Linked DNA regions of Homo sapiens: region 2 is linked to region 1. Evidence: fine-mapped expression QTL. A gene starts in region 1. The other region holds a variant in brackets. All regions are shown on one strand. Distances are from middle to middle. Region 1 holds the start of TNIP3 (TNFAIP3 interacting protein 3). Region 2 has its middle 57 kb from the start of TNIP3.

Region 1 (4,407 bases):
AAGCTTGACTAAAAGCCAGACTCTTAAAATATGTGGCACAATGTGAGAGGGATGGAGGTGAAGTGAACAGAGCATATGTAACAGAAAAGACCCAATTAATTCTTAGGGATGGCATATTGAAAGTCTCATTTTTCTGAAACCAAACTTGTGGCTCTTCAGAAGAGTTATTACTTATTCATAAATAACCATATGGCTCTCTTGAGCTAATAGAAAATCTGTTTGTTGTTTATCTGCATAACAGAAGAGGCAAAGGAATTGTAAAGAAAGAAGCAAAGGTATAGAATTTCCATTTAATAGAAGCCATCACACCTAACAATGTATGTGCATCAGGATATTTTACAGGGGAGACTCAAGAGGCACAATGCCAAGGATGGTATTTCCTGGCAAGAAAATGTTCTTCCCACCCACTTTTCTAGGTCAATGTTACCACATCCCTATACAAATACAAAGTTAAAGCTGAAGAGAACCTTACACTATATAAAACTATGGAGTGTGTATGTGCATGGTATGTTTCAGAAGAAAAATATTCTTACAATAGAGTTTTCTTTTTCTTTTCTGATGAGCAGATTTTAGTGTTGATAAAGTGTCAGTTCAGGAAATCGCTGCTTCTGTACCCTAAAGTCAGATCTTATGTGAGTTATAACTTTTTACTTTCAGAACCCTGAATGAACAATTTGATTCCTACCTGTATTTTTGGATTTTGCCTTAAAGCAGCGTCACTCCCTTTCACTCAAGCGTAGACCCAAACATAACAAGAAACCAGAAGAAAGTAAACACACACACACACACACACACACACACACACAAACTAGCAAAAAGTTCATCGATTTTGTAAATCATTATATAGATATTCATTCATTTATTCATGTAGCAAAATGTGTTGAATGCCTGCTGTGTGCCAGACAGCTCAGTGCCTGGGTGCGTGGACACAGAGATTAACACAAGAACATGGAAATATGTAATCGTAATGCATGATGAAGTGCTCTCCTTAGCTGATTAGAGGAAGTCAAGAGAAGATCAGAAGGAAAGAGAGGCATTGACTTAGGTTTTCCCCGTCATAAGGTTGGATGGAGGGCCCAGAGAGGAGACATCTGAGGTGGCAAGAACAGCATGCACAGAGCTCAGGGGCGTAGAACCATCTCACTCATTTCAGGAAAGGGAGGTCAGTCAGGATGGTTGGAGCACAGGGGAGAGTTGGAGAGTAGGGGGAGATATTCAGGAGAAATGGGAGGGCCAAATGTGGGACACTCAATCACTCTCTTTTGAATTTTAGGAGTTTTAGGCTTTATCCTATATATATGTGAATATCTCGTAGGCAGGTTAATGAAGTTAAATGATTGACCATAAATTCTTTTCTCTTTTTAGTTACACATTCTTTCCTTTTTTGTATTCCTTGCCTCTTTCCTTTTGTTCCAAGTCCAAAATGAGGTCTTCTGTTCCATCGCAGTTCACTTATGCAGCTCCAAGTATCTGCCATTTCCACGCTTTTATCTGTACTACCCAGTAGTGCTCCATTACCTCAAGGCTCCTAAAATGATAACAGTCAAATAATTAAAGTGAAAATGATTCTCCATGAGAAGATTTCACTTCAAATGAGTCATGGAGACAATCTGGACTTGATTTATAGAAAAGACAGACTTAAACTTGAGACAAGTTTAACCTTTCTGCCAATATAGAAGATTAGATTTGCAAACAATGCCCATTTTCTTTACAATGAATTATTTTCCCTTTTATTTCTATAAGAATTAGTGGCACTTATATTATTATGTATTATGAATTATGTATGACTCATTAAGTTCTACCAAGCTACACTCACATTTAGAAGGTATTGCCAGAAAATCTCGCCTTTAGGGAAACCGAGCTGTCAAAAAGTCAACAGTTACCTAATTGCTCTGGGAAATACAATGAATTTATAACAGTTAGGCTACTGAGGAAACACTTGGATTGCCCAGGCTTTCTGTGGTGGAGAACTTCCTCCTCCAGTGGGAGAAACTGCCAGTAAAGGAAGAATGACGATTTACATACTATAGCAAGGCTAATCTGCCCCAGGTCTTAGTCACGGCCTGCCTATTTGAGACATCCTGGGAAATCCCTATTTGGAAGAGAAGAAAAGTTAAAATCCCAGTTGCAGTGCTTATAACTTTATTCTGTGTAATTCCTATCCACAGTCACTTCTGTTCATTTTTAATGAAAACCTATTGCTGTTATTTTCTATTATGAGTTAACGGTGATGTGTGTTTTTTAAATTTTGTATACTTGCTCTCACCCTAAAATATACCTTAAGAGACTTTTCCCCTGTTTTTCTTTCTGCTTTCCAAGACTCCAGGAAAAACAGCTTCCATGGCACATTTTGTACAGGGCACATCTAGAATGATTGCCGCAGAAAGTTCTACGGAGCATAAAGAGGTAAGAACATATTTCTAGGAGATGAGTTGATCACATCTAGCATTGATGGCATTTCTAGTGGTTAATTGTGCACTTATTAATAAGAACAGAAATGGCTAGTTTGCTTTCTTTAGCTAAGATTTGCTCTATATTTTTAACCAAAATTATGTAACATAGAAAAAAATATCTAAGTAACCAGTACATTGCTTTTAACCCACGGGGCTTAAATTCCTTTCAGCCTTCCAGTTCTGTGGGTTCCTTATTTTGTTCTTGATTTTTGTTCTATAAAAATCTTAAAAGAATACTATATTGGTGTAGGTAGAAATAGAACATATTGTAACAATAGAGTATCTGTAGTAATATTTTTATATATTTACAATTGGTACCATAGATTTTGTTCAGCAACAGAGACTACTGCTAATTGAATGAATGAATTCAAATATTTTCTAGTTTTCTTTTACAGATAACCAAGGTATAATGGGAAACTAAATGGAAACTTCTATTCATTTAAGTTTTTAATTTAGTAGCATCAGACCTTGAATATACATTGGTAAGGATGTTATCATAGAGAAAGAAGTGCCCAGATGCTTTGAACAGAAATTCTACTTTATAGGGAATAATTATAGGAAATTATGTATAGGGAATAACTGTTCCGTAAGCAGCCCTTGCTAGAATCAATGACTGAAAATCTTTGTAGTTACTGCAAATCAGATGCCTTCATTAGCAACTGTAAAGCAAAGTAAATACAAATTGAAAAGGTCCCCCAAACCTTTGTATTTGATTAATTTCGCTTTATTTTATAGAAACCTGAGACATATGAACTATAACAAAATGTTGATTAATCTCCAGAGAAAGCTTTGGTGATACATTTGTGACTTACATGCCATTCCTAGTCACTATGTTTTCTATTTTTCCTCCCTCCTATCCTCCCCCACCTATAACTGAATATTACTTATGAATTTCAAAAACTAGTACTCGTGCAGTTACAAATAGAGCCTCTTGCAGATTTGGTATCTAGATTTTCAGTAATTTTTATTTATTAAAGAAAAATCAAGGGTGAAATGTATTATAATTTTCTTCCAGAGAAAATTGTTTATGGGGAAACAAACAAAAAGCACACTGTCTCATTGTTCCACATCTGGGCTCCCAAAGGCAGGGACATACAAATGTTTGCCAATCACGGATTTTTGTCTACATCACAAACAGAGAGGAGACATTTTTGAGGACCCATAATTTATTCCCTAGAATGGGAATATATTGAACTTTAGTATGAATCAAAATTACCTAGGAAATGTATTAGAAATAGAGGTGCCCTGGCTGCTCTTCTAGAAATTCTGATCCATTGTTCAGGATGCTCTATGTTTAGCAAGCTTAACGGTGACTTTGATGTGCTCTTGTGGTGGGAACCACCATTCTAAAATCCAGTCTTACTGTGCCCCTACTTTGCTGATGACCTCAAGATACACTAAGTAGGGTTGGCTCACAGCATTTTCCAGATCAAAGATGCTTAATAGTTAGTCTGTTCTAACCCAGAATGGGTCCAGTTTCTTGGAAGTCTTCCCCAAAAGAAGAAGGTCCAATTACGGGCCCCAACATACTTGACACTTGGGTTTCAGTGTCACTCTTGGTGCTCAGCCAGAACACCTTCTTGAGGTCAAGAGCAAATATAATCATTCAGAATTTATTGACCCACAGAAGACTGTCTCTTTTTAAATGTGGTCTTAATTGTAACATAGGTCTAAATAGGAAGAAGCTAAGGAAACGAGAACATCTCTGCTTACTTAAAATACCATCAAACCCTAAAATGCTGAAACATAAACAAACAGAGAAAAGATAGAAAATACAGTTTTATAAATAATTTCTGATGAAAAAAGGTGCTTGAAATCCCATGATGATTGCAAAGAACAATTTCCTGTACACATTTCTGGCAAAGACCAACAACATGTTTTGAAAATATTTCTTAATGGTTCACAAATAGCTTTAAGCAACTTAGTGATCCACAGTAACTATTAAGCCTGAAAC
Region 2 (4,407 bases), 57 kb before region 1:
CTTTGGGAGGCCGAGGCGGGCGGATCACGAGGTCAGGAGATCGAGACCATCCTGGCTAACACGGTGAAACCCTATCTCTACTAAAAATACTAAAAATTAGGCGGGCGTGGTGGTGGGCGCCTGTAGTCCCAGCTACTCGGGAGGCTGAGGCAGGAGAATAGCGTGAACCTGGGAGGCGGAGCTTGCAGTGAGCCAAGATCGCGCCACTGCACTCTAGCCTGGGTGACAGAGCGAGACTCCGTCTCAAAAAAAAAAAAAAAAAAACGCACAAAAAACACCCTCAGCTCCACATTTTCATGATTTTCAGCAGAACAACCAACAATTAATAACTAATAACATGTATAATAACATTTATGTCCCATAAAAATCGCTTTCTCTACAGGCTTTCCAGTGAGTTTTGAAGATTAAACAAAATTTAAATTCTCTCACATTTATTTGGAGCTTACTATCTGCCATGCAACACTAGAAAAGTCACCTTATAGTGCAATTGAGGTGAAAGTTGCTTGTAAATGCAGTGTCTTGTTTAATCATTATGGACTTTTCCTTGAAGAAGGGAAGTGTTATCCTTACTTTGTAGGTAAGGACAGTGGGGCTCAGAGTATTTAAATAATATGCCCAAAGACATATAGTCTGTTAAACGTGAGAGACAGATTTGAATACACATCTTTTGACTCTAAACCCAATCATCCTTCCAATACACGTTTGAAAAAGCGAATTTGTAATTTGGGGTGCTTTGATGAAATTTATCAGTAGAAATCCACAATACAGGAATATTCCCAAATAGAGCTGAATAAAGACTCAGAACAAGGATATGCTCATTTTTCTGCAGAATGAAGGAACATTCTATGGAAAACTAGGTCCTCTTCGCAGGGGAAGAAATTCACTAATATTTCACTAAGCCTCTAAGATGCATCAAGAGCAATATAGCAACATTGCAAAAATCCTAGGATGACCAGTTTTCATAACACTTAAGTATTAGGAGCACTCTTAGCTACTATAATGTACAATCTGTTCTCATTTTAGAGCTGGTGATCGACATTCAGGGACAAGCAAATGTAGTGATAGCCCTGGTGACAGACAGAATCTTAGTCTCCTGACTCCTGGTTCAGGAACTTTTTTAGATTCAGTCCTCAAATGTCAGTTTTGCATGAAGAAGAAATGCAGGTGTTCTGATGTGATTGAGCTGTAGAGAACCTGTGGTGGCAAAAAACTTTACTGCTATAAAACAAAAAGACTTCTTAGAAGGAAATAGGTGATGAAAGTCCCCTGATTTGACACCTTTCTCAGAAATATGAAGTGGAAAAAAAAATAGTTACAGCTCTGTTGGGTAGTTCTTTCTTTTGGTTTAGCCAAACGATGTGCAGCCAAAAATCTCTTTCTTGTTCTCAATTTCCCTTGAGCCATTACTGTAAATGAGAGTGGTGTGTAATTTTCCTCTCCTCCAATTTCTTCCACACTGTAATCAAAGGTCCTTAAGTACCTGTTGGGTATAGGAATCTTATTTGCTAGAGGAAATAAATGAATTAAAATGTGTAACATATCCTTTTTTTGAATATCATTATCATATTCTTAACAACATTGAGCATTTGCCTCATTTTGCATAGAAATTATCTGAAATCTTTTATTGCTGTTTTAGCTTTGTGCTTGTAAATTTAGGTTAGTTTTATAGTCACGTGATCTGCTTTACTGTTCCTGTTTCTAGGCTAAGTGAATTCCTTTTTCTTTTTTAATATTTATGGAGATAAAATGACTGATAGGGAACTTTAAGGATAAAACTTCTTGAACATACAAACTGGCTATTTTATATATTAAGAGTGATTTAGACTGAATATTAAAGATATTATTAGAAAAACATAACCAAGGTTTTATACTAAAAATGTTATAGTTCTTTACATTTCTTTCTTACCAATAATAGCAAGGATCTCAAAATGTTGTCCATTATCATCCACATATTGGCAACAAATATCTCAAGCTTTGGAAACTGCAAAAGGCCATGAGAATTGCTAACAGTAAACCAAAAATTTTTAAAGAGCATTATGTTTTATTTGTTCTCATTGATTTTTTTAAACAGAATTTTAATACCTTTGGGGAGGATATGTCTTCACTTACTCACCACAGCCCCTACCACCACTTGTCACCAATTTATGTCAGCTTCCTGACTCTGCAGGCATTTTCCCACTCTTGACTGAACGTATTGCTCTTTTTCA[T/A]CCCCTACTCAGCCAAATCACAGCAGGAACGAATCCTGCTGTCCATTCGCTCAGTAAAACACACAGACTGGCACTTAAGGCACGCTGAATGCTCACAGCTAAGGACATTCACTTATTTCTGACTCTAAAAGTTAAGTGGTACGTTTACCCAGGATCAGCTTTGTTTATTCCCCCACGCTATTTATGACAATTTTACTTTTTTGCCATTATATATTTAAATAAAATGTATATAAGCCGATGATACATGAGTACCAAAAGGTTAAAAAAAAACATTGTTTCAGTACAAGCTAGTTTTAGCATCTTGGAAACATCTAGTAAAGGTTAAGTTACCAAATTTGAATTGGATGATGGTGAGGGCAAATACAAAAAAAAAGTAGTTAATTATCATAAAAACCTAAAAGCATTCTGTTTTCAGATTGCTTTATGTCTTAAAATTTTTGCTCCCTTGTAAAGAAACCAAAACTAGAATTCACCAAGGATTTATTGTGGGCCAGAAGACACATGTGGACAACCACTAATAGATCTCTCCTTAGAAAACAGAGCCTAGCAATGATGTTCACCTATGTATTTTCAGTGACATTAAATTAATATGGTATTAATGTATTATTCTTCATGAGTCCCAGCTTTAACTAATATTTTGATTAACTGACTGCCTACCTGTAGGTCTCTTATGTGATCAATAAGAAAGCTTTTCATGTATTCTTAAATGGTATAATGTCATTTCTAAAAAATTAATATAAGTACTTTTATATCTGTAAGCATGTGAATGTACACATATGTATGGTTTTCAGCCTATTACTTTATAGAATCTTTATTATTTATTATATATGGATACAAGGATAGTAATTTTCATGATGGTTTAGTACCTGATGAGGACATTTTATCCTAAATGTATTGAACCTGGTTAACATTTAATGTTAATTTAGTAAAGATAGTGAAATGAAACAGTTTCCAGGAAGGTATTATGTGTTGTAAATTGTATGACCCAGAAAGAAACACATTTTATTTAAATAAATATGCCTTGTCAGCTTCTAGTCCTTTCTACCTTAAGTTTTCATGCATTTGATTGTATGTGAATTACATTTGGACACCTCTCAATGTATAACATAGACTTGAGCAACATAAATGTAAACAATAGTATAAGAATTCGTTGGTAATTTTTTATATAACATTTTCAAGGTCTGTAAAACCTATGTGAGTAAACTTTGAGTATGACTGGTAATACGAACACCCTGCCCTTGAATCTGACTTTAGAAATCCAAGTATATTAAAAGCTGTCACCAGAAATGTCCAAAAGCTCATAAAACTTGGTTAACTTCCAAAAGTAAGTTTATCCTTCAAAGTTGGGTTATTTTGGAACTATGGATTGTGTAAACTTCTGCTTAAACAATCAAACAGCTTATGATCTTCACTGATGTGCTGAAATGCATCCAAGAACAGAGGACATCTTTCGGCTAAGTGAAACAGAAAGCAACAGCTGCTTCTTTAGCAGTATAGGAATTCCTTAAAAAAGAGGAAAAGGAGGAGGAGGGAGGAAAAAGGAGAAGTAATCAAAAGATGGAAACAAAGACATGTGTTTGCTTTTAGCTTCAGAGGATGCTCAGCCAGTTGGATACTCTTACTTCTATGGGTTTTTTGTTTGTTTGTTTGTTTGTTTGTTTGTAATGGAGTTTCATTCTTGTTGCCCAGGCTGGAGAGCAATGGTGTGATCTCGGCTCACTGCAACCTCCGCCTCCTTGGTTCAAGTGATTCTCCTGCCTCAGCCTCCTGAGTAGCTGGGATTACAGGTGCACACCACCACACCCAGCTAATTTTTGTATTTTTAGTAGAGACACCATTTCTCCATTTTGGTCAGGCTGGTCTCGAACTCCTGACCTCAGGTGATCCACCTGCCTCGGCCTCCCAAAGTTCTAGGATTACAGGCGTGAGCCACCATGGCTGGCCACTTCTGTGGTTTTTAATTGTAAATCTTTTGGTTCTCAGAAATTTTATGTGGCTATAGCTAGGGAAAGTAGTGCACACCTGTAGTCCCAGCTACTCAAGAGGCTGAGGGAGGAGAATTGCTTGAGCCCAGGAGTCCCAGCTACTCAGGATCCTGAGGGAGGGGAATTGCTTGAGCCCAAGAGTTCAGAACTATAGTGCACTGTAATGGTGCCTGTGAACAGCCACTGAACTCTAGCTTGGGTAATATAGTGAGACA

What was found.
Region 2: its variant is fine-mapped to the expression of TNIP3 in whole blood (INTERVAL, PIP above 0.99).

Annotation. Positions count from the first base shown.
Region 1 is chr4:121,162,059-121,166,465 of GRCh38, reverse strand. TNIP3 (TNFAIP3 interacting protein 3) reads left to right here and starts at 2,145. Exons shown (of 11, transcript NM_024873.6): 1 at 2,145-2,406. The coding sequence starts at 2,341.
Region 2 is chr4:121,218,662-121,223,068 of GRCh38, reverse strand. It overlaps a transcript of TNIP3 not described here. Among named protein-coding and RNA genes, the nearest start is that of TNIP3, 57 kb to the right of the region's middle. The variant T/A (reference allele first, on the strand shown) is at 2,208.